6 separate regions of the Homo sapiens genome follow, and regions 1, 2, 3, 5 and 6 are each reported to be linked to region 4. The links are microRNA targets in miRTarBase. Many come from high-throughput screens and were not tested one by one. Region 4 holds a microRNA gene; each other region holds the end of a gene's coding sequence.
What was found. Region 4 holds the annotated microRNA hsa-miR-6771-3p (CAAACCCCUGUCUACCCGCAG, at 2,655-2,675, shown strand). A microRNA usually pairs through its seed, bases 2 to 8, with sites in the 3' UTR of a target mRNA and lowers its output. Matches are read on the target gene's strand: a 7mer-m8 pairs with bases 2 to 8, a 7mer-A1 pairs with bases 2 to 7 and ends in A, and an 8mer does both.

Region 1 (4,095 bases), not on the chromosome of region 4:
AGTGATAAGTATAACAATGGTGAACATGGACAGTATAGCCTCTTAAGCAAAATTACCTTTGACAAATGTAAAAACTTCTTTGTATGTCAAGTATGTGGTTTTCGGAGTAGACTTCACACAAATGTTAACAGGCATGTTGCTATTGAACATACAAAAATTTTTCCTCATGTTTGTGATGACTGTGGGAAAGGCTTTTCAAGTATGCTAGAATATTGCAAGCATTTAAATTCACATTTATCTGAAGGGATTTATTTATGTCAATATTGTGAATATTCAACAGGACAAATTGAAGATCTTAAAATTCATCTAGATTTCAAGCATTCAGCTGACTTGCCTCATAAATGTAGTGACTGCTTGATGAGGTTTGGAAATGAAAGGGAATTAATAAGTCACCTTCCAGTCCATGAGACAACTTGATTATTCTCTTTAACTTACAGAATGTTAGTTTAAAATAATAAATTCATCCTTTTTTTGGAGATGATTAAATGGATGATTGTAAACACAACTTATGAAATCTGCCTTTAACAAGTAACTTTTTTAAATTATAAAATTTTATTGGCATTGCTCCATTTTCTGTATATAAATATATCTTTAATGTGGTATTTTCAATTGCGTGATAGTTTGTAGTTTCAACCACTCTTGGTGACTGTCATCCTGTTTCTTCCATATTCTCTGATTTCATGAATTGAAAAGAAACAAATGTATTGAAGAAGTGAGCTACAGTTTTCCTTCCTTAACCATGGGTGCTAGTAACTTTTTAAAACTCAAGACAAGATTAGTTTTTTATGTGTGAAGTCATTAAATTATTACACGACCAGAACTAAAATGCAATATACAGTTAAGTCCACGGATACTCCCATTAATGAGAAATAACACTAGGAAGCCACTATTACAGGAAGAAAAGATTTGGTTTTCATGGCAGTCTGTTTTTTTAAAAAAAAATTTTTGAGCCACTATCTATTGTTGAATATTTTAAGATGGGATGAGGGAGGAACTAATAAGGGCTTACACAATAAAAAATAACTATATCATAACTCATTCATAACTTGATGTTTCATTTTCTGTTGAGGAACCATAAATTCATTCACAGACTTAATATTTTTTTCTTAGAGATGGTCTCGTTCTGTTGTCCAGGATGGAGTGCAGTGGTTGATCATAGCTCCCGGGCTGTAGTCTCCCAGGCTCGAGCAATCCTCCCACTTCACCCTCCTGCATAGCTAGGACTACAGGCATGTGGCACCATGCCCGCTAAGTTTTTAAATTTCTTGTAGAGATGAGATCTCGCTATGTTGCCCAGGCCAGTCTCAAACTCCTGGACTCAAGCAATCCTCCCACCTTGGCCTTCCAAATCACTGGGATTATAGGCATGAGCCATTATGCCTGACTCTTGCCCAAATTTCTGATGTCAAATTGTTCATTGACAGAAAACCCACTGAAGTATTTAAAGTTAGGAAGATCTGGGAGATAGGGGTTGCTGGCATGAAAATGTATAACTTACAACATTTATTAATAAAATGATAAATTAGCATCAATATTAGTTCGTATGGCTGCCATAACAAATTACTACAAACTGAGTTGCCTACCTAGCAGAAATTTATGGTCTCACAGTTGTGAAGGCCAGACATTCAAAATGGAGTTATTGGCAGTTGGTTCCTTCTGAGGGTTGTGGGGGAAGGATCTGTTTCAGGTCTGTCCTTGGCTTGTAGATGGATAGCCTCATGTTCACATGGTGTTCTCCCTGTGTGCAAGTCTGTCCCCCAAATTTCCTCTTTTTTTTTTTTTTTTTGCTTTTTTAATTTTTTGAGACAGAATTTCACTCTTGTCGCCCAGGCTGGAGTACAGTGGCGCGATCTCAGCTCATTGCAACCTCCGCCTCCCAGGTTCAAGTGATTCTGCTGCCTCAGCTTCCCAAGTAGCTGGGGTTAACAGGCGTCAGCCACCATGCCAGGCTAATTTTGTATTTTTAGTAGAAACGGGGTTTCACCACGTTGGCCAGGCTGGTCTCAAATTCCTGACCTCAGGTGATCCACCTGCCTCAGTCTCCCAAAGTGCTGGGATTACAGGCATGAGGCACCGCCCCAGGCCAAATTTCTTGTTTTTATAAAGACTCCAGTCATATTGATTGGATTAGGGCCCCTCCCAATGTCCTCCTTTTAACTTAAAGACCTGATCTCCAAATAAGGTCATATTCTAAGGTGCTGAGGTTTAGGACTTCAACATATGAATTTGGGAGGGAACACAATTGAGTAGCAGAGTCTGAAACAGCACTATAAAGAAGATAGAATTATATGTATCATTGCCCTCAAATTTAACAAGCACTGCTAACATTATTTTTTAGGTTTATTGATATAAGTGGAAGATCAATTTATGACCAATGATTTTCCCACTTCAAGAATTTAGTCTGTTTGGACAATGGTGGCTGCAAGTATTCTTAGAAGGTATTATTTTTATCCCCACTATTTTGTTGTATGTGCATACCTGTGTTCCTAGCAACTCACATTCCATCTAATTATAACATTCCTGTTACGGCTGATAACAAATGTTTCTCAGAAGACTTAAAATTGTAACAGTTTAAATTGTAAGATAACCTTAGAAAGCATCTGGTCTAAACCCTCCAGTTTTCTAAGTTCCTTGCAGAAATAGAAATGTAGATAGCTATGAGGCCAAGTACATATAACCAGTTATGTCTCATGGGAGTGGGATCCAGGTTATCTGGTTTACTGTCTAGTGATGTTTCCATTACATCATGTTACATAAACCTAACCTTTCTCCCTGGGATGTTTTTTGTGACTACTTCACCTAACAATTAACCTAGTTGTTGATAATTTTGTTTTTATGCTTTTTATACATCTAGCTCCAGGAATTGGATTTTTGGAAAAACACCTTAAGTAATGCCTTGGTTTGTTTGTTTTCTTTTAATCTATTTGCTGCTTTACATTTGGATCAAGTGTTAGTAATTGAAAAGATTGCAGGCTGGGCGTGGTGGCCCACGCCTCTAATCCCAGCACTTTGTGGGTGGCTGAGATGGGCAGATCACGAGGTCAGGAGATCCAGACCATCCTGGCTAACAGTGAAACCCCGTCTCTACTAAAAATACAAAAAAAAATTAGCTGGGCGTGGTGGTGGGCACCTGTAGTCCCAGCTACTCGGGAGGCTGAGGCAGGAGAATGGCGTGAACCCGGGAGGTGGAGCTTGCAGTGAGCCGAGATCGCGCCACCACATTCCAGCCTGGGTGACAGAGTGAGACTGTCTCAAAAAAAAAAAAGAAAAGAAGAAAAGATTGCAATGCAGCTACTCAAGAGACATATATCCAAGTTTCAGAACCATATAATTTTGTACTTTTTTTTTTTTCAGACAGTCTTGCTCTGTTGCCCAGGCTGGAGTGTAGTGGCGTGATCTTGGCTCAAGGCAACCTCCACCTCTCAGGTGTAAGCAATTCTCCTGCCTTAGCCTCCCAAGTAGCTGGGATTATAGGCGTGTGCCACCACACCCGGCTAATTTTTGTGTTTTTAATAGAGACGGGGTTTCACCATGTTGACCAGGCTGGTCTTGAACTCCTGACCTCTTGTGATCTGCCCACCTCGACCTCCCAAAGTGCTAGGATTACAGGCGTGAGCCACTGCACCCGGCATAATTTTGGACTTTTTGATGAATCTGCAGCTTCAGGACCTATCCCAATGACAGTTTGTCCCACAAAACCTTTTCGCCTTGGCCCAGTTTTCAAATCAATGATTGACCATAAATTGCTTGAAGTAGTTGGTCTTTATTTATTTATTTTTTGAGATGGAGCCTTGCTCTGTCGCCCAGACTGGAATGCAGTGGCGTGATCTTGGCTCGCTGCAACCTCTGCCTCCCGGGTTTAAGCAATTCTCCTGCCTCAGCCTCCCGAGTAGCTGGGATACAGGTGCCCACCACCACACCCAGCTAATTTTTCTATTTTTAGTAGAGATGGGGTTTCACCATCTTGGCCAGGCTGGTCTTGAACTCCTGACCTTGTGATCCACCCACTTCGGCCTCCCAAAGTGCTGGGATTACAGGCCTGAGCCACCACGCCCGGCCAGTCTTTATTTTTAACTTAAAGAACTTCAGAAAAAC
Region 2 (4,107 bases), not on the chromosome of region 4:
TCCCTCGGCCGTCTGGGGGCGGAGTCCACTGCCAGGAACCCCGGAGGCAGTTGGCAGGGGGTCCATGTGTCGGGGGCCTACCACCATATGCCACCTTCCCCAGACAGTGCCCTCCTGGGCGACCCTACCCCCACCAGGACAGCATCCCTTCTCTGGAGCCAGGCAGCCACTCTAAGGATGGACTTCACAGGGGTGCCTTGTTACCACCCCCCTACCGAGTGGCTGATTCCTATAGCAATGGCTACAGAGAGCCCCCTGAGCCAGATGGATGGGCTGGAGGTCTCCGGGGCCTTCCCCCAACTCAGACCAAATGCAAACAACCGAACTGCAGCTTCTATGGACACCCTGAGACAAACAACTTCTGTTCCTGTTGTTACAGGGAAGAACTGAGGAGGAGGGAGCGGGAACCGGATGGGGAGCTCCTGGTGCACAGGTTCTGAACGGGTGGAACACTGAAGGGCAAGGAGGCTAAACAAAGTTAAGCTCAACTAATTGGCTCATCAAGAACACAGTCCCCATGTTGAGGGGGAAAATGCAGTAATGTTTGTGGGAGCCTGGCTGGAAACTTTTAAGTGTGTGCACACAGGAGTGCTGCCAGGCTGGCAAGAGCAGGTCGGGGCTGGATGGCACCTCAGGGGCTGTACTATTCCTCTGCAGAGCTTGACTTGATGAGGTTTGAGGTACAAGGGGAAAAGATGGCGATTCTGTCTTATAACCTCCTGGGTCCCATCCAGGGACCTAAGAGAAAGTAGCAGGGGAAGGTTTGGTGTGTGGGGGTGGGAGGTGGGCAGAAGTCTTGGGGAGGAATGGGCAAAGGAGGTTCTCAGTCAATAAAACCAAAGTTCTTTAGGTTGGGAAAAAGCACATGGTGGAGTGAGAAGTGTGGAGGGGAAGTGGGAAATTGGACACATTTGCTATTGATTTGAATTAAGCTAGAAATTAAGGTTGGATAAATTCTTCCCCTTGAAGGATCTGGAAAGACAAGGCAGTAATGTGTCCTCATGGGTGCCTGTTAGGAGGTGGGGGTAGTTTAAATCCGTTTGTTTAGATGGGAAAGGGAGGAACTTAAGAGGGAAATCCTTTTCCTCTTAAGGTTTATTTCCTTCCAAGCAGTCATATGTCATCTGTTACAGTTTGAGAAGAGATTGCTGATTACCCCCTGTCTTTTCCTCATCTAAGTCTTTAATTGTATTTGTTTAAAGGGAAGAGTGTGGTGAGAACAGCCGTCATGTGTGTTGCATTTTCTCCAGGTGAATTGGGGCAGAGCTGATCTATTTTTTAACCACAGCAATAACCATACGTTGGGGTTTGAGTGCACCTTGGGAGGGGTGGGAGGACAGACATTTTAGCCAGAGGCTGTTTCAAACAAAACCAAAAACCTAAGTAGAGCATTACAGGCCTCTGTGGCTGCTGCGTTTCTGTAGAAAGCAACTTATTTTATTGACTTTTTTTTTTAAGGAAAAGAAATAAAAAGACCCCAGCAAGCAAAAACATTTAAAAAATGATTTTTTTTCCTCCTACTTAAGTGGTTCTTTCTCCCTTTGCTCTACTTTTGGAGAATGAACTTAACATCCCGGCTTCTTTTGTTAAGCCATAGCTGACCTTAATCTGTGGTTAGTTTATTAAAATAATTAAAAATACTTTCTAAGAAGAGATATTTTTGATATTAGGACTGATGTTGAAACATATAGGGGCAATTTATAAAAAGGTAGTTAGAGAAATATATTTTAGTGAACTATAACCACAGAGCACAGATGACTCCCAATGAGCTGATCTGTCTTTAGGTTTCTCCCTTTCCCTGACCCTTCCCTGTTCTCTAGGGGCTGGGAGTGGGGATGCGGACACAGTAGGGGGAGCTCCTTCGCATTTTGCACAAAGCACAAGTCTGAACAGCCTATGCTCTGGCCAGAGCCATTTCTAAGAGCTTTAAACCGGAAGACCTATCCTGGGCCAATTTTCCTTTTTCTTTATATTTTTTTCCGGGAAAAAAAGTCAACTATGCAATTGTATACACTCCCGGGTGCATGTGAAGAAGGGGAATAAGTGTACTTATGTGTCCAGAGTATTAACTGGGGCTGTTTTTCTGTGTTTGGATTTCTCTTTTGAGGTATGTACTCATAACCCATCCCTTGGAACGTAATCCCCACATTTGATCTAAAGCACTTGAGCGTGCATGCATGTGCGTGCGTGCATATGTGTGTGTGTTTTCCTCCTCGGTAGCCAGTCAAGATTGTCCTTGTTGGAAATGCTCACGGTTTATAAAGGTTATTTTCTCCTCAACAAACTCAGAAGTCACCTATTTTCCAAATCTGATTTAATAATTTCCTATGGCTATTAATTCTTAGGGTTTTCTTTGAAAATAGATTTGTGTTAAGGAAGCAGTGAGATTCCAAAGGAAGGGATGTGTATATGTCTAGGCAGGTCTGGAACCTGGTATGAGATGAGCACTCCCCTAAGTTGCAAAATTTAAGGGTTACTATAAAACTCATTAATCAAGATACTATAAAAAATGCAGTATTTAAAAAAATTAATGCAAAAAATTTATGTTGGATAAAATAGCGAAATCTTACAGGATCTGACAGGACTGAGATTAGGAGGAGGGAAGTGAGGCTGAATTGAATAAGTATGGGGATGAATCCTTCTTATTTAAATTTTTGATACATTGTCCATCATAGACTTTTTACATTAATTGTGATTTTTTAAAAATGTTGCATTAAAATAGTATTTATCTTGGTTACTGGGTTTTTTGGCACTCCTTAAATTTTGTGCCCAAGGTGAGTGCTTTGCTCACCTCACCCTAGTTACGTCCCTGTTTCTGTGATTTGAACACTAGCGAGAACACCACTGTGTGCGCCTCCACCCCCATCACACACCAAACAACAGGTGGCTCAGACACCCTGAATTTGCACAGCTCACCTAGCTTTCCTAATTTAGGCCTTCATATCATAGAATGGTGGCCTGGACCAATAGGAATGAAAACAGACCAGGGGTTTTCCCAGAGAATAAAGCCGGAAAAGTTTTGATTCTCCACTGGACTGCTGTGTTTGGATTTGATCTGTTGTTAGATTCTAGTTAACACTTTTGTTTTTAAAAACTAAGGACAAATGAACAAAAAACCTTGTATCATGTTTGTTTTTATTTATAAGTTAGCCAATCCCAATTCCGTTTGCTTTATTTTCAAATAAAAAAAGATGGAAATTTTGAGGGGTGGTCTAGGGGTGAATATGGTAAAATGGGGCTTTAGGCCTTATAGCTTTTTATTAAGAAATAAATTATTTTTTTTATTTGGGAGGGTAACTATTTATTGAGGCATTGAAAAACCTCTCCATTCTAAGGATGAGAGACCCTGAGACAATGGATATTTTTTATAGGAGATAGTGAAGTTTGTTTTGCTTCATTCTTTCGGGGAGGGTCTTGGTGGGATGGGGGGAGGTGAAGGAATAATGCCTGGGAAATTAATATAGATTCAGCTTGGTTTGTGGTATTTTGGGAAGATGAGGGAATAGAAGAGGCAAGCCCATGTCGTTACTGGGTTGGGGAGAAGGAAAGAAGGGGCATATGGCCTGCACTCGAAATGGGCAGAAAAATTCCTTAGTTAAGGAGGGGTGTGTGAGTGAAGGGGGAAGGTAGACCCTTTAACCCCAAGTGAGGGATGATATCATCTCTCAGGCTTAAATTTAAGTGCACTTAGTTCCTTTAATCCAGGGCAACTGGGGTACCTACTGAAGTTTTTAATGGAGAGGGGAGATTTTCAGGGTTCTTGTTTTTCCCTTTTTGATGTTAGACAGTGCTACTCCCTCCCTGCTGTGCTCTCTGCCCCATCTCCAATGGAGTAAGTATTACTGTAGGATAGGCCTCCGCTTCTCCCTTAACCTATGCTGCATTTATTGAAAGTTACAAGATTTAACCAGAAGTTTTTCCTCCATACTGGTTTTTATCAACAAAATAAAAAGATTATATCCAAAGATTTTTTAAAGATTCAGTCTTTTTAAGGAGTGGAGATGGTGTTAAACTCAGTGCTGTAGAGGGCAGTGGAAGGGAAGTACCTTCCCTCTATTAGCTCAGTTTTTTTTTTTCTATCAAGCGAAACTAAGGCCCACAGACAAA
Region 3 (4,107 bases), not on the chromosome of region 4:
TCGCACCACTGCATGCCAACTTGGGAGACAGAGCAAAACCCTGTCTCAAAAACAAAAAACATCTATTTTTTTTGCTTGTACTTTGATGAACATCCTCAATGATATTTTTAAAAACACATTTCAGGAAGCTCTATGCAGAACTGTGCCAAGGCATCGTGGACATAGCCATTTCCAGTGTCTTCCCACCCCCAGATGTGGAGCAACCTCAGACCCAGCCAGCTGCCTTCATCAAGCTGTGACAGAGGGCACTCCCTGCTGCCTTGGAAAAAGCACGGGGTCCTGCTCCAGGGAATGGTGAAATGACTGGATTGCTCTTTATCCAGCCCACAGCAGGGGAAAGAAAGGCAACTCGCAAAGATGAGATGGAAGAAGGCACGTGAGCAGAGGAGGCAGCTCCCAAAGAGAGGGCTGCTCAGGGGGCTTCCCAGATGTAGCTCTCAGCAGTGCTGTTGAGACTTTTGAAAACAACTTTGGTACACAAAGGCAGCTTTGTGAGCAGAGCTCCTTCCCCTCTCCCCGGGAACGGCAGGGCACTGGGACCTCTGGTCGGTGCCTCCCACCCACTGCAGCCCTAGTGCCTTAGCTCCATGCCCGGCTGCAGCCCCACTGCTCTGGACTATGGATTGGACGTCAGAGCATATTGGAGGTTGCCTGTGTGTTCCCCACCCATCCCTTCGGTAACACTCTGCCACACTAAGCTCTGTACAAGCATGCACCAACAGTCCTTAGTTTTGTGCTGTGCACTGGCCTCTCGGCAAAGGTGGTTTCCCTCATCACCTTCCTGATGGTGTTTGGTCAGTCACCTGTCAGGGTTTGTGCGGGTTGGGCCCCAAAACAGCATATGCTGCTCTAAGTCTGCTCTCTGCATGTTTTAGAAACAAAGTGGCAAGTCTGCCCTGAACCTGTAAGCATCAAATAAGCATGAGAGAGAAAAAAACATGATATATTGCTTTACTTAATAGGTTGAATATGGTAGGTCTTTGAAAATATGATGATTCAATTTTCTCAATTTTCTTTGCTTTAACCAAAATTCTAAATGCAGTTTTGCCTAGTTCCCTTTTTTTTTCTTTTTTTACTTTTTTTTAAACGTTTGTAAAAACCTCTTTGAGGATGAGGAGTCAGTAAAATTCCACTCCCCAAGTGGCCCTGCCCCAGACAAAGGTTGCTTTCCCCCTTTTTGTTCTTTTTATGCCCCCAAGCACTTTCTGCAGTAGCTAGAGGGACAGGTTTCCTTCCAGGAAGGATTCGAGTTCCTGTGCCTGTGGGTATTAGGAGAGTATATATCCTGCCTGAATGGGGAAGTCTTCTAAAATGGGAAAGAAGTGGTTTCATCTCCACACAGTGTCTTGTAAATCTCAACAAATGTGTACTGTTAGAAGTGGCTTCCGCTTACTGGATTAACTAATACTTTATAGGCTTTTCAGGAGGCCACATCACTAGCAGTAGGGAGAACAAGATGTCATTTGTGTTCAGTGTAAGCTGAGTAAACAGGCCCTTCCTAGAGTGTCCTGGAAATCACAGCAACCCATTGAAAACTGCCCTCCCCACCAGAACGTGCTACGTTCTTTCTTCATGCCTATGTGTGCTCCATTCCTCATTTCTACTTGGCTCAAGAAAACATTTCTGCAGTCAGGTGAGACTTTTACAAAAGAGGAGAAAATCAATGCCTCCTTGAACATGATGAGATGTGAGAACTTACAATGAAAAAGGCAATAATGATAGAAATTATTTCTTAGGTACAGCAATAGTTGATAGGATGTGAGGGTGTTACCTTGGGGTGAAGTGGAGAAGGTCCCAGGTGAATTGGCTCTCATGGAAATTTGGAATTACAAAATAAACGTCCTGGGGGTTACCCAGAATACAGATTTAAAAGTTTGCCTGTAGAGCAAAATAAAACAGTCAGTTGTAGTCATTAATCCTTGAGGCCCAACGCAGCCGATGGGTTGGTGTTTGGGAAATTCTGAGATGGGAGTGAGATCTGATCGGATCCTGGGAAGATGTATACCCAGTTAGAACGTGTAGGGTTCTGGGTCCCTGGCAAGTCTAGGTGGGCGGGTGACAGGGAAAGCATGGGCATTTTTGTATTGCTGTCACATGCTAACAGAGGTTTGTAATTATCTTTTGGACCCAAATTATAGAGACATTCACGAGTTTTCTAGCCCTCACAGTAACAGAGCTAAGAATTCAGATGTCAGGAAGTCTGTGAATCTTGATGGATTTTCTGAGAAACCTGACTCAATGGCATATATAAGAGGGAAGTAAGACTTTTAAGAAAAGAAAAAGTTATGCCTCATTCCTCATGTGGCTTCCAATAAGTATCTTAGGAACTTATTTCCTTTTTAAAAAATATTTTTTAAATTTTTAAAATTTGATTTTAAATTTCAAATAAATTTAAATAAATTTTAAATAAATTTTAAATAAAATTTTACAGAGACGTGGTCTCACTGTGTTGCCCAGGCTGGATTGCAGTGGCTATTCGCAGTTGTAATCATAGCACACTGCAGCCTCGAATTTCTGGGCTTGAGCAGTCCTCCCGTCTCAGCCTCCTGAGTAGCTGAGACTACAGGTGCACACCACCAAGCCTGGCTTTATGTATTTATTTCTGTTCATGCGGAATGATTGGTTCAGAACTGTTCCTTTCCCTTCCATGATGTCCTTGACACAGAAGGTTATGCCTGGCTCCCAGTCAGGCTTCATACTTTTGGTCCATGTAAGTGCTACCCGTTGCTGGGGGAGGAGTCATGGTTTATTTGGAAATGTCAGTTGCAATCATGGTTCTGTCATTTGACTGCACAGTATCAGAGGAGCCTGTTAACCTCTCTGTGCCTTAGTTTCTTAGCCCATGAAAGAGATCATTGCCTGACCCAGGGACTACCTCAAGGGCTTTTGATGAGGACAAGTGACAGTAGGAAGATGCAAGAGCCTTTAGTACCAAGGTTCTCAACACTGACTACATGCTGGAATGACTGTGAAGCTTTTAAAAAATGTTAGTGCCCACTCTTCCCCTGTACCCCCGGACAGTTAAATCAGAACCTCAGACAGCAATATGCCTTGAGATGCCTTGAACCATGCTTGAGAAGGAAGGACAAACACATTATTATCTTGGAAGAATTGCATAAGGCTTATGACTTAAAAAAAAAAATTCTTTTTGGAAACACAAGCATTTCTTTAAGGATGACCGGATGTTGCCGTATGTATTTATGGCACAAGCAGGTGTTGTCTAAGCAGTTTCTCTGTTTGCTTGTCATAGCAGCATTTGGAAACTCAAACATGCTTTCATTTACATAAATAGTTTATGAAGCTTTGACAACAAATGTAAACAGACACGAAATTATAAATCTGCTAAATATGTATTAAGGGTATTAATTATTGAAAGTCCCTTTCCCCAAAACTCAACTCCTATGGCAATTATGAACTCCATTTTACCAAGAACATTTAAGTGCCTCAGCATCTGTATGATATAGTGGAGCAGGTGCTGACATAGGTACCAGCTGACATGATGTGTCACTAGCTCTGTGGGATGATTGCCACATACATGGAACACCTGGGAGTGCTGGAAATGTACTGTGATCGAAGTGACAAAGTGTGTTTTCATTCACAGTGGAGGCTACATCAAGCAAGGGGAGGTCCAGCCCTCTTGCAAGTGTGGTGAGAGGCTCTACTAGCAAAGACATGGGCACCGGAGTAGGTCCCGTGTAGCATGCGGGTGCTGTAGAGAAAATTCAGTGACGTACATGGCTCTGGTTCTGGACACAAAATCTGTACTGGAGAGGAAATGACTGCTGAAATAAGGCGATTGTATGAATATTTAAAATGCCTGGAACACTAAAGTAAAGTAATGATATTTCAAGTGTTTTTGTGCTCTTTGGTTCTTGTTGTAGGTATTGACTGTCCTGGGATATCACTGGTCATTTAAATTCACCATATAATTAGCCGGGCATGGTGGCATGTGGTGGTGGCTGAGGTGGGAGGATCGCTTGAGGCTGAGGTGTGAGGCTGCAGTGAACCATGTTCACACCACTGTACTCTAGCTTGAGCAACAGAGCAAGACCCTGTCTCAAAAGTAAATAAATAATAAAGTAAATATAAATCCATGATGCCGTTACT
Region 4 (4,107 bases):
GCCTCAGCTCCTCCCCTGTGGGATGACTTTTCCTGGTATCCCTCACCAGCCTCTGCTCACTCACTGAGGGCCAGGCGCAGTGTCCTCTTTGGGCGGCTTTACAAGGCTCTGCCTGTGAATGAGTCCTGCCCTGTGCTTGTGGTATCACCTGCGGCTGTGCACAGAGCACCGTGGGAACCCAGAGAGGAGGCAGAGGCAGATGGAGAGTGATGGCATCATGGGCGGGGCTGTGGGTGATGCTCTGGTTCCCGAGATGATGGGAAGGGGGTGGTTGAGGCAGCCTTGGCAGAGGTGACAAAGGCCAGAAGGTGAGTGGGAACCAGGTGTGGGAGGGTGCATCCACACCCTTCACGTGGAGGAAGCTGTAAGTGAGGCAGCCGGCCCGGCAGGCTTTCTGGAGGAGGTGGCTCTGCACTGGGGAAAGCCGAGGCATTCCTGTCTGTTTGCTCCACCCAGGACCCCTCCAGACACCAGGCCATTCTGGGCATGGCGTTCCTGGTGCTGGCGGTGTTTGCGGCCCTCTCTGTGCTGATGTACGTCGAGTGTCTCCTGCGGCGCTGGCTCAGGGCCTTGGCGCTGCTCACCTGGGCCTGCTTGGTGGCGCTGGGCTATGTGCTGGTGTTCGACGCATGGACAAAGGCGGCCTGTGCGTGGGAGCAGGTAACAGGAACTCTGGACTCCCTGCCAGCTGCGCCTTCAGCAGCTCCCATCCCCGTGGTTGGTGGGCATGCCACAGGCCCTTCGTGCCCCACGCTTGGCTGTGTGTCTAGGATGGCCCCAGGCTGGTTTTGTCCCTGTGAGTTCTCTGCATTGACAGGGCTGAGGTGGGGAGAGCATCCACTCGGACGCTGGGCTGCAGCACTTTTGGGTGGCTCCAGTTTGGTTGGAGATGACAGAACTTCAGCTCAAAGAGGCAAAAAGGCACAAACTGGTTCCTGTGTCAGGAAAGGCCAAGGGGTCAGTGCTGGGCTCCAGTGGGTAACTGGAACTGGGGCCTCTGGACAGCTTCGGCCCCGGGCACGCTGTCCCCAGGTGGGGGCAGAGAAGTTCACAGCGGCTCCAGGCTGCCCACCCCAGTTGAGAGAGAGGGCCCTTTCTCAACCAGCTCGACCTGCAGGCTTGAGCCACACTGGCCTGGCTGTGGTCATGGGCCCAGTCCCAGAGAGGCTGTCACCAAGCGGTAGCACACTCTGACCAGTGGGCCTGGGTCCTATGACAGCTCCTGTGGCTGGGGCAGGGTGGGGTGAGGCCCAAGGAAACCATGTGGACTGAAGGGGAGGGAGAGGGCAGCACTCCCAGAGGGGTGGACGCAGGACCAGCCGGTGGGGATGGTGGGGCAGCTCTGGGGGTGGAGGGAGGGCGGGTGGGGCCGCATTGCTGGAGGCAGCTGGTGAGAGGGTGCCTCAGCCTCCCGGTAATCATTTCTGCTGAGCGAGAACCACGTGGCAGGGGCACCAGGTGGGGGCTCCCTGGATCACGCGGGGCATGGAGCCTCCCACCTAGGGTGGCCACAGGCAGTGGATCAGCACAGGAAACCATGAACCTTGTGGCCGGGCCCACCCTAGAAACACATTATGGCTTTTCTTGTTCCCTTGTATGTCTGCCCACGCAGGGGGTGGCGAGGGAGCCAACCTAAGGATACGCACTGGGTGGGCTGCTGTGGTGCAGGGTTCCGGGGGCTGTACGGCCTGGGGCAGCATCTTGGGGCACCGGGCTCACCAGGCTGCATCCACAGGTGCCCTTCTTCCTGTTCATTGTCTTCGTGGTGTACACACTACTGCCCTTCAGCATGCGGGGCGCTGTCGCCGTTGGGGCCGTCTCCACTGCCTCCCACCTCCTGGTGCTCGGTTCTTTGATGGGAGGCTTCACGACACCCAGTGTCCGGGTGGGGCTGCAGGTGAGGGATGGGCTAAGGCCTCTGGGGGAGGTTTTGTGGTCTGGGTCTAAGGGCAGATGGGGGGGCCCCCTCTGGGTGAATCAGACCCGAAGGCCCCGGAGCCGTGTTTGCAGACAGCCCGCTCCAAGGCCGGGCCCTCTCCACGTCTGCTCGGAAGCTGGGCTCCAGGCGTGGCCCTGCCCTCTGGCCTTTGCTTTGCTGGCCTAGGGCTCCCCTGTGGCTCAGCCCTCAGGGTCGTGACCTCAGGCCTTGCCTCCCGGTTCAGGGACACTGTCGTGGGGTGAGTCCCATTGCCGAAGTTTCCCCTCGAAGGCCCTGTCCTGGCGGGGCTTGGGGGAGTACCCCAGGGCACTGCCTTGTGTCTTTGTGTTGAATGAGTGAATCTTCTGTTCATAATTATTGGGTGTTTAGAGAAGTGTTTTCCCTCTGACCAGGCCTGGTGTCCTCTCCAGGCAGAGGCTGGCCCTCCACACAGCCAGCTGGGCGCTGTGCCCTCTGGGACTGCCCTTAGCACGCATGCCCCTCGGGCCCTGGGCTCTGTGAGGTGGTCTCTTCTGCCTCCCTGGGTGTCCTGGTCTTGCAGTCCTAGTGACTCACTAGGAGACTAGCTCCTGTCTGGGCCTCAGTTTCCCTGTCTGCCCCAGGAAGAGTGCCATTCTCAGTGGGTTGAAGGTCAGGGAATGGGAAGAGGTGCCATCACTAGTCCGCCTAGGGGTCTGGTGCCTCGGGAGGGCATGGGCCAGGCCACATAATGAGCCAAACCCCTGTCTACCCGCAGCTGCTGGCCAACGCAGTCATCTTCCTGTGTGGGAACCTGACAGGCGCCTTCCACAAGCACCAAATGCAGGATGCATCCCGGGACCTCTTCACCTACACTGTGAAGTGCATCCAGATCCGCCGGAAGCTGCGCATCGAGAAGCGCCAGCAGGTGGGACCCGGCCCCCACTCCTCACCCTGTACACCCCTGTCCTCTTCCTCTTTCTGTTGGACATGAGACACTCATGCTGCCATGTGCATGAGGTGCATGGCCAGACACCCATGCAGGTCTCACCTCGGTGAGTCCTGGGCTCCAGCAGGGTAACCATAGCCTGCTGACCCTTGACTCTGCCTTCCTCTGTGTGGTTTCAGTCCTGGGCACGCAGTCCCCAGGTGGCGGCAGAGAAGGCCGTAGTGGCTCCAGGCTGCTCACCCATCAGCTTAGCCTCCCCAGCTGAAAGAGCCCTTTCTCAGTCACCCTGAGTCCCGGGGGCTGCTGGGTACATGGGAGGTAGATGCTCAGTTGGGTTGGTGGAGGACAAGAGCAGAGATGGGGACATTGTGGGCAGGGCAGGCAGGCAGGGAGGATGGGGGCCAAGGAGGCCAGGTCTGGGACCTGATGCTACCCTGCCTGTCCCCCGCTGGTCCCTCCGCCGGTCGCTTTGCTGGTCCCTCTGCTGGTCTGCCCACCCACACCCAGGAGAACCTGCTGCTGTCAGTGCTTCCGGCCCACATCTCCATGGGCATGAAGCTGGCCATCATCGAACGGCTCAAGGAGCATGGTGACCGTCGCTGCATGCCTGACAACAACTTCCACAGCCTCTACGTCAAGAGGCACCAGAATGTCAGGTGGGCGGTGAGACGTGTGATTAGCATATCCCGGGGACTGGGCCCACCGTTCCACCGGCCCCCAGGCGGCCTCCCCGCCCTATCTGGAGGCTCAGACCCCTGCCCATATAGGGATTGGGAGAGGGCCCCATGGTTCCAGGTCAATCTGGGGCCCTCCCTGGGTCTCAGAACCCCCACTTGTGGGCAGGATCAGATCAGGGCTCTTAAATTAGAGAATTTAGATTGGTATTGAAAGATCTAGCACACCCCCAAAACTGTAAAACTGTGTGAGCAAACATAGCTTTTGTGAAGGAAGGGGTCCTTTCAGATGGTTCTCAAGGGAGCACAGGACCCCCAGAATGAGGTAAAGCCCCCCGGCCTTGGTGCCCAAGAGTGCCCCGGTTCTGACACCTGTCTTTGGCTGATTTGCAGGGAACCACAAAATTTTACTTGAATGCACTGACCTGAGTTTGTCAAGTGTCGATGTGGGTGCTGGGTGCCGTTGAGTGTAGATGTGGGTCCCAGGAGACCCCCTGGGTCCTCTGCCTGCAGCGCCAGCATTACATCCAAGGCTGGCCCGCTGCCTTTTCTCTGGGCTGTGGATGGTCCATGAGCTTAAGGACTTT
Region 5 (4,107 bases), not on the chromosome of region 4:
GTCAGGAGTTCGAGACCAGCCTGACCAACATGGTGAAACCCCGTCTCTACTAAAAATACAAAAATACAAAAAAAAAAAAAAATTAACCAGGCGTGGTGGCAGGTGCCTGTAATCTCAACTACCCAGGAGGCTGAGGCAGGAGAATTGCTTGAACCCGGGAGGTGGAGGTTACAGTGAGCCGAGATCACACCGCTGTACTCCAGCCTGGGCGACAGTGCAAGACTCTGTCTCAAAAAAAAAAACCTCACTCAAGGCCAGGCGTGGTGGTTCACACCTGTAATCCTAGCACTTTGGGAGGCTGAGACGGGCGGATCACCTGAGGTCAGGAGTTTGAGACCAGCCTGGCCAACATGGTGAAACCCCATCTCTATTAAAAGCACAAAAATTAGCCGGGTGTGGTGGTTCCAGTACTGGGGTTCTAGTACTTGGGAGGCTGAGGCAGGAGAATGTCTTGAACCCGGGAGGTGGAGGTTGCAGTGAGCCGAGATTGCGCCAGCCTGGGCGACAGAGCAAGACTCTGTCTCAAAACAAAACCAAACAAAACAAAAAACTCACCCGAAAGTAACCTTTATTGGCCTTATTAAATTGACAGTGGTTGCTTTTTGTTCTGCTTTTGGTTTCTAGACATTTGGATGGAGGATTACATAATACAGAGAAAAATCTGGACATCTAAGGCCTTCCTACTCAAAGTGTGGTCTGTGGACCAGCTGCATTGGGGTTAGAAATGAAAAATCAGCTGGGTGCGGTGGCTCATGCCTATAATCCCAGCGCTTTGGGAGGCTGAGGCAGGAGGATTGCTTGAGCCCAGGAGTTTGAGACCAGCCTCGACTACATAGGGAGACCCCATCTCTATAAAAAATAAAAAATTAGCCAGGCGTGGTGGTGCATGCCTATAGTCTCAGCTACTCCAGCAGCTGAGGTGGAAGGATCGCCTGAGCCTAGAAGGTCAAGTCTGCAGTGAGCCATGATGGCATTACTGCACTCCAGTCTGGGCAACAGAGTGAGACCCTGTCTTAAAAAAAAAAAAAAAGAAAAAGAAAAAAAGAAAGAAAGAATTGAACAATCTCAAGGCCCACCCCAGACCCATTGAATTGGAATCTGCATTTCAGCACAATGCCCAGTGAATTCTCACCTATATTAAAGTTTAAGAAACATCTGGGTTTCTCAGCAACATCCCCCTGCACGTCTGTGGATAATGTTGGTCCCTCAGATGTATGTGGCATTTATCGCATCCCGTCTGGTGTGGAAATCTGTGCCTATGGTTTCTTTCCCTGCCAGGCTGTGACTTCCTGGAAGGTAAGGGCTGAGCGCTGTGTATAGCTCTGGATCTCTTATAGCACAATGACAGGAAGCAGAAGACCTGGGTTTCTGTCCTGGCTCTGCCATTTATGAGCTCTTTGTGTTGTATCATCTGTGAGAGGATTTTCGATCTTTCCAAGAAAGGGATTCACCCCAAATCTAACTGTTTAAAAGTCAGAGACAGGCCAGGCGCGGTGGCTCACGCCTGCAATCCCAGCATTTTGGGAGGCCAAGGTGGGTGGATCACCTGAGATCAGGAGTTCGAGACCAGCCTGGCCGACATGGTGAAACCCCATTTCTACTAAAAATACAAAAAAAATTAGCCGGGTGTGGTGGTGGGCACCTGTAATCCCAGCTACTCAGGAGGCTGAGGCAGGAGAATCTCTTGAACTCAGGAGGTGGAGGTTGCAGTGAGCCAAAATCGTGCCATTTCACTCCACCCTGGGCAACAAGAGTGAAACTCTGTCTCAGAAAAAAAAAAAAAAAGTCAAAGATGGGGCCGGGCACAGTGGCTTATGCTTGTAATCCCAGCACTTTGGGAGGCCAAAGTGGGCGGATCATTTGAGGTCAGGAATTCAAGACTAGCCTGGCCAACATGGTGAAACCCTGTCTCTAATAAAAATACAAAAACTAGCCAGGTGGTAGTTGTGCGTGCCTGTAATCCCAGCTACTCAAGAGGCTGAGGCAGGAGGATCACTTGAGCCTGGGAGGCAGAGGTTGCGGTGAGCCAAGATTGCACCGCTGCACTCCAGTCTGGGTGACAGAGAGAGACCCTGTCTCAAAAATAAATAAATAAATAAAAATAAATAAAAGTCAAAGAAGGTGGAAGACTCCTGTACCTAGTTTATTTCCGGGCTTCATCTACAGGAGAAGGCACTTATGGATGGAAGGAAGAAGACAGTAACCAATTCTAGAGTAAATGATATCCAGGGTATATGAGGAACTTGGGTTATAGTTGCCCCAACAGCTTCCCCAAGGCTTTTCTAGAAGTTTCCAGCTTTGCTGAAAGTTCCTGTCAGCATCAAAAGCAAGCCGAGGCCAGGTGCAGTGGCTCACACCTATAATCCCAGCACTCTGGGAGGCCGAGGAGGGTGGATCACTTGAGCCCAGGAATTTGAGACTAGCCTGGCCAACAGGGCGAAAACCCGTCTCTACTAAAAATACAAAAAATTAGCCGGGTTTGGTGGCTTATGCCTGTAGTCCCAGCTACTTAGGAGGCTGAGGCAGGAGAATTGCTTGAACCTGGGAGGTGGAAATTGCAGTGAGCCAAGATCACACCACTGCATTCCAGCCTCTAAAAAAACAAAACAAAACAAAACAAACAAACAAAAAAAGCAAGCCAATAATTATCATGGGAGAAGCACGGCAAGGTCTCTGTGCTCTGCAGATGTGTTCTGAAGCTCAGGTCACAGATGGAGCTGTGAGGGACACATTGCTAGGGCCTGGGCAGGTTCTGAGGCTCAGGACTTTCAAAGGGCCATGGAAGTCAGAGTGCTGCTGTAATCTTCAGAAAGCCCACTCAAGAAAGCCCACTCAGAAAGCCCAGCTCAAGAGGATCTGTTCCCTGCCTAGAGGGATATGATCTGGAGTCCTCAAAGGCCCCCACAGCCAGCTGTGAACAGGGAATAGCAGAGAGTTTGGGAAGAGATGAGGAAAGAGTAGGGAAGAAATATTTCTATTAGGCCACTGCAAAAGTAACTGCAAAAACCACAATTACTTTTGCAGCAACCTAATACGTAGTATGGAAGTAATATCTGCTGAAGCCAAATGGTGTATCAACAGTTCTGCACGTGTGACTCGGAGGTGGGGGTGGGGTAAGGTTTGTGTTGATCTGGCATTTTTCAATTTGGAAAAGGCTGGGAGATCCAGATGGGAGAGAAGGAACTCAAAGCAAACGTCTGCCAGCCCACTGTCAAAGATATGACACCTCAGGTCTAAGGCGCTGCAGTTTCTTTATTTTTTCTTTTTATAGAGATGGGGTCTTGCTGTGTTGCCTGGGCTGGACTCAAACTTCTGGGGTTAAGCGATTCTCCCACCTCAGCCTCCCAGAGTTTGCAGATTACAGCCATAAACCACCGTGCCCAGCCCTCTGCAGTTTCTAAAAGAGGTTCATCAATACAAATTCTCAGCATCATTCTCCAATTAGGCTCCCCCATTAACCAATTGTTTCTAATGACCGATTATTAATTTGCAAGAGAATTCTTCCTCTAACTCATACCATCCCACTCAGACAGAGTTCAGTATTTTCCTTCACTTTAATTTTTATTGCTTCTCCAGTTCAGATAATTCAGCGCTTCCTCTTTCTTCTTCCTCACCTTGTTCATGGCTGGCTGTTCCATCAGCAGAACTACAAAACCAGAAAGGCAACAAAATTTGAAAGGTTTCTCGGCATCCTCCAAGGAGGCTGTGGGGGAATATGAAAAAGAAGGTGGTGTCTGGAGCCACACAGACCAGAGTCCAAAGCCCAGCTCTGCCATTATTAGCTGTGTGATCTTGAACAAATCACTCACCTGTAAAATGAGCTCATAAAGCTTGTGAATGTGAGAATGATATCAGGTAATAAATGAATGGCAATTCGGTGCCAGGAATGTGCTGAGCTCTCAATTTATGGTCAAGAACATCACTGGGATGGCTACTAATCACTTGGTTAGACTTTTGGTCTCCCACATGGCAACGGAGACCAACTGAAAATGTGTTCAGAAGTCTGTAGTTGTTACCTCTAGTGGATCCTGTCCCTCCAACTAGTAAGAGTCAAGGAAGAGGAGCTGGATTTAAAGCATTCAGAATGTCCTTTCTCTAACAGTAACA
Region 6 (4,000 bases), not on the chromosome of region 4:
CACTTTGGGAGGCCAAGATGGGTGGATCACTTGAGGTCAGGAGTTCAAGACCAGCCTGGCCAACATGGTGAAACCCTGTCTCTACTAAAAATACAAAAAAATTAGCCAGGTGTGATGGCGGGTCCCTGTAATCCAAGCTACTCGGGAGACTGAGGCAGGAGAATTGCTTAAACCCAGGAGGTGGAGGTTGCAGTGAGCAGAGATTGTGCCACTGCACTCCAGCTCTGGGCGACAAAGTGAGACTCTGTCTCAAAAAAAAAAGAAAAAAAAAAAAAGAAAGAAAAAAATTGAATTGATTTTTCTGGAGAAGAAGGAAGCTAGAGGCGAAAACACCAAAAACAAGAGGAGTATTTCTAAGATTTAAACAAATCTTTACTTTCATGGCAAATTTTACATTTCTCCATTCCATTTAAAATATTTTCCATAGCTTAGCTGAACCAGGCTGAAAGTGGATGTCTGGAGTGGTGGAGGCGATACACCATGAAGTAGACAGGACAATAAAGGAAGGGGAGATAACAGCCTTCTTTGTTTTGCTGGGTGCCAGTCATTCTCTAAAATTCTTGGAAAATTGAGAAAAAGTTAGTGGGCCATTTCCTTACTGAACTACAAACCCCAGCATCAGGGCAGAGTTATCTCTACAAAGCAGGGAGAGAACGCAACAAATAGAGCTTGGCCTCACCGCACTCTCTGGCTTTTGGATCACATTTAATGTGAGAGAGTTGAGCCTGTTCTTGGAATGGGCAAACTCAAAAGATTAAGCCACCAGGCCATGTGACCATTCATCCAGGTGGGTGAAGGTTCCAGGACTCAGGGAAAAAGGAGCTAGGCAGGCAATGAAATCAGGTACATGAGAAGAAATCATTTTGTTTTTTTCAACCGTGGTCTGTGTTGAGTAAAAACTCATTTTAGAATTAATAGAGAATTTCTTCATCTGCTCTGAGCAATTGCTGGTTTGATTTTATAGCTGAATTCAACCACACGGGCTCATTGAGCATGTCATAATTTAGTTTTCATTGCAAGAAGAAAATGAGAGTCTATCTCAAATTTTGAAGAAATATTGAGGAAATTAAAAAATTATCTGGATAAAAGTGCATAAGGGGCGTGTGGAAGCAGAGATAAATGAACACTGCCAGCCCTTCATAAATGTATTATTATATTTGTGTATAATTTATCACCTTGGATTTAGGAATGAAAACTGATTATGTTTCAAAAGCAGCTAAGTAGAAACTTACTTGAATTTGAGCAACAGACAGAGCTAAAGAGAAGAGAATAGACAGACTGAAATTGAAATACCCAAGAAAATAGCATTAAGAGCCTGGTGACTGGGAGAAGGTTAGGGATCCTGCCTTCTAGAAGTGTTATATTGGCTCTTGATCCCATAGTCTATACGTAGTGCTTTGGGAATAACGGGGCTTTCCCAGATGCTAACACTACCAACCAACATAGAGAACCATCAAGGTATAGCATTTCCTCTAATATTATTTCTTTTCAGTCCTTTGAGAAAAGTCAGTTAAAGTAAATGTCATTGTTGTCATGCAGCTTGGAGGCCTGGGAGATATGAGGTCTTGTGAAAATGTGCTAATTTGAACATTGCGTATCAGGAGGAGTTGGTGAAGGGAAGGAGGGTCCTGCCAACTTTTTTCTGTCATGAAAAATGAAGAGGACTATGGGTGGTACTCCAAGCTGGAGCAATGCCCTTCTCTATGAATGCATAAAAGACGCAGGTAGACTTGAGCGGGGAGGACCCAGAGAGGCCCTTGAGGCTGGAGAGATTTAGCCTGAATCTGTGAGTTGGGCATGCCTCCCTTGGGGCATCCTCCAGAATGCTGGGCAAATTGCTGGCAGATTCAGGGCCTTACACATAGCACAGGGCAGTGAGAAAGCATAGTGGTTAACAGTGTGGGCTCTTGAGTCAGATAAACCTGGGTTTGAAGATGAACACTGTCACTTCTCGGCTATGTGATTTTAGGCAAATACCTTACTTCTCTAAAGCCTGTTTCTCTCGTCTTTAAAATGGAAATAACAGTATATCAGTCTCATAAGATTCGCTGCTGCCTGGAACAGTGTAAGCACTCAATAAATGGTAGTTTTGAGGGTTATTTTATTTCTAAAGCCATATGTAGTCAAGTGCCATCATATGACAAATGGTAAGTGCAGCAGTCGTAAGGCATGGCCTAGGCACTTGGGAGCCCACGACAAACAGCTGTCCTGAGAGCTCCCTGGGAGGAGTACCAACATCCGATCCCCATTATGCAGCTCTGGACCCCATTAGCCTCCCAGCTCCAGTATCCTGCCCATTCCCAAATGACCCGATAGACACAGTAACTGGTCCCGTGTTGCGACACGATTAGGATTTTTGCATAAGAGTTCAAGTTAAACAGATGTGAGTCATCTTATTCTTTGGTTCCATAGCATTTGGCTATGCAAATTTCATATTCTCTTGGCTTCGTTTTTCTCCAGTGCCCAACACCAAATAGTGGAAGCAGAAAGAAATGTCAATGGCTGCAAGGGCACGGGGGGAACCATCACTCCTATATGCCTTCCACTGGAAGTGAGACTGGAAGGGTATCAGGCTGGATTTGTTGACACCTTTGATGATTCTGTAGGAGGCTTTGCCAATGTCTTATATTTTGAAATTCATGGCAAGACATAAGCAACAGATTTGGCAAGAGGAAATATTATAACCTGAAAAATGGGACAGATTACTAGAAAAGCAGCACAACCAGGGAGAAGGGAAGGGAAAAAAAGGATGACAGAATAAAAGGAAAAGAGAGAAAAGTAAAAAAGGAAATTGAAGAGAATTAAGTGTTCTGGTGCTGATGAAGCTTAAGAATCAGGAAGTGATAATAACAATAATAGTTATAAAAGTAGGAATGAGATGGTTAGAAAGCCTCAAACAAAAACGTTAGGAAGGAGGGGATCTTTCAGGCATTAGGTGATCCATCTCCTTTCTTTATGGCTAAAGAAAAAAAGAAAGAGAAAAAAGAAGAGAAATAGAGAACCCTGCGTGTCTGGGCCTTTGGGTCTAGGGGATTGGACTATGATCTATGAGACTCTTTCCACAACTAATAATCTATGAATTTATAAGTCATGTATGTTTTTCAGATTCCTTTTTTTGGTTAAGACTTATTTGGCTAAATCACTGTGGTCTGTGTAACTTCTGATGAAAGCCATGTTGTGTTGGATGACGTGAATGCGTTTGATTTTTCGCAGCTCTCAAAAAGTCAGGATCATAATGCCCTTCAAAGTTCTAAGTAGCTTATACAGTGTGATCATGTTTTTTAAAAAGTCGACCAGCCTTCAGGTATGTCCTGGGCCTAATATGCTGCTTTTGGGGAGGTAAGAATCTAGGCTAGAACCAGGTCCTAGAACTTGGTGGCACTCATTTGGGTGATTCCTCAGTTTCCTTGTTCAGCTCTATGATATCTGTTTCCTTGGTGTCCAGGTTTTCCATTAAATACAGCATATCAGAAGAGACTCGAGAGCCAGCCACAATGTTGATCCCACTGATCTCTGAGGATGTTTCTGTGTCAATTAAAAGAGCTGGCTGAGAGCTCATGGGGTCTGGACTTAGGTTTCCCAGGGAAGTGTGGCTGGACCCCAGGAATCCCGGAAGACTCCACCTTTTTAGAAAGGTATCACCAGGGTCTTCTTCACAGTTGAATATATTTTCCTCAGCGCTGGCTGAAACTGTCTGGGGACTGGGGCCTCCAGGAGGTGTCTCCTTCTCTGAGGGAGACAGGATGGATCCCATGGGGCCCTGCTGCTGCTCAGTCTTGCTTGGCTGAACCCCTGTAAACTCAGAGCTCAAGATGGAGGTAGCGGAATCATGGTGGTAGCCCCCTGATGTGGGCACTGGTGCTTCGGCTGCTGTGATCAATACCTCAGGTACCAGTGGCATTTTGATGGGGGAAGTTCTCACACTGGACTGTGGGGTCAGGCTCTGTAAAGTGCTTGTCTGGCTGGTCTCCCTGATGGTGGACAGCTCTCCCATGCTGAA

Region 1: the mRNA of ZNF639 is a reported target of hsa-miR-6771-3p. Seed matches in the 3' UTR shown: 7mer-m8 at 1,975-1,981, 7mer-m8 at 3,521-3,527, 7mer-A1 at 3,856-3,862 and 7mer-m8 at 3,951-3,957.
Region 2: the mRNA of OTUD7B is a reported target of hsa-miR-6771-3p. Seed matches in the 3' UTR shown: 7mer-m8 at 1,304-1,310 and 7mer-m8 at 2,987-2,993.
Region 3: the mRNA of TTL is a reported target of hsa-miR-6771-3p. The part of its 3' UTR that is shown has no 7-base or 8-base seed match.
Region 5: the mRNA of TCEA3 is a reported target of hsa-miR-6771-3p. The part of its 3' UTR that is shown has no 7-base or 8-base seed match.
Region 6: miRTarBase lists BEST3 as a target of hsa-miR-6771-3p. The part of its 3' UTR that is shown has no 7-base or 8-base seed match.

Annotation. Positions count from the first base shown.
Region 1 is chr3:179,334,006-179,338,100 of GRCh38, forward strand. ZNF639 (zinc finger protein 639) reads left to right here. Exons shown (of 6, transcript NM_001303426.2): 6 at 1-4,095. The coding sequence ends at 417. Among named protein-coding and RNA genes, the nearest start is that of MFN1, 12 kb to the right of the region's middle.
Region 2 is chr1:149,940,190-149,944,296 of GRCh38, reverse strand. It overlaps OTUD7B (OTU deubiquitinase 7B), which reads left to right. Exons shown (of 12, transcript NM_020205.4): 12 at 1-4,107. The coding sequence ends at 440. Among named protein-coding and RNA genes, the nearest start is that of MTMR11, 5.4 kb to the right of the region's middle.
Region 3 is chr2:112,528,557-112,532,663 of GRCh38, forward strand. TTL (tubulin tyrosine ligase) reads left to right here. Exons shown (of 7, transcript NM_153712.5): 7 at 125-4,107. The coding sequence ends at 239. Among named protein-coding and RNA genes, the nearest start is that of POLR1B, 12 kb to the right of the region's middle. RefSeq lists enhancers at 39-539, 540-1,040.
Region 4 is chr16:50,290,001-50,294,107 of GRCh38, forward strand. It overlaps MIR6771 (microRNA 6771), which reads left to right and starts at 2,616; the gene lies at 2,616-2,675. It overlaps ADCY7 (adenylate cyclase 7), which reads left to right. Exons shown (of 26, transcript NM_001114.5): 3 at 457-660; 4 at 1,736-1,897; 5 at 2,676-2,825; 6 at 3,354-3,502.
Region 5 is chr1:23,377,829-23,381,935 of GRCh38, forward strand. TCEA3 (transcription elongation factor A3) reads right to left here. Exons shown (of 11, transcript NM_003196.3): 11 at 3,081-3,646. The coding sequence ends at 3,638. Among named protein-coding and RNA genes, the nearest start is that of ZNF436, 10 kb to the left of the region's middle. RefSeq lists an enhancer at 357-426.
Region 6 is chr12:69,651,525-69,655,524 of GRCh38, forward strand. BEST3 (bestrophin 3) reads right to left here. Exons shown (of 10, transcript NM_032735.3): 10 at 2,085-4,000. The coding sequence ends at 3,383. The region is part of intron 3 of LOC105369823 (a long non-coding RNA gene); the gene reads left to right. Among named protein-coding and RNA genes, the nearest start is that of LRRC10, 43 kb to the left of the region's middle.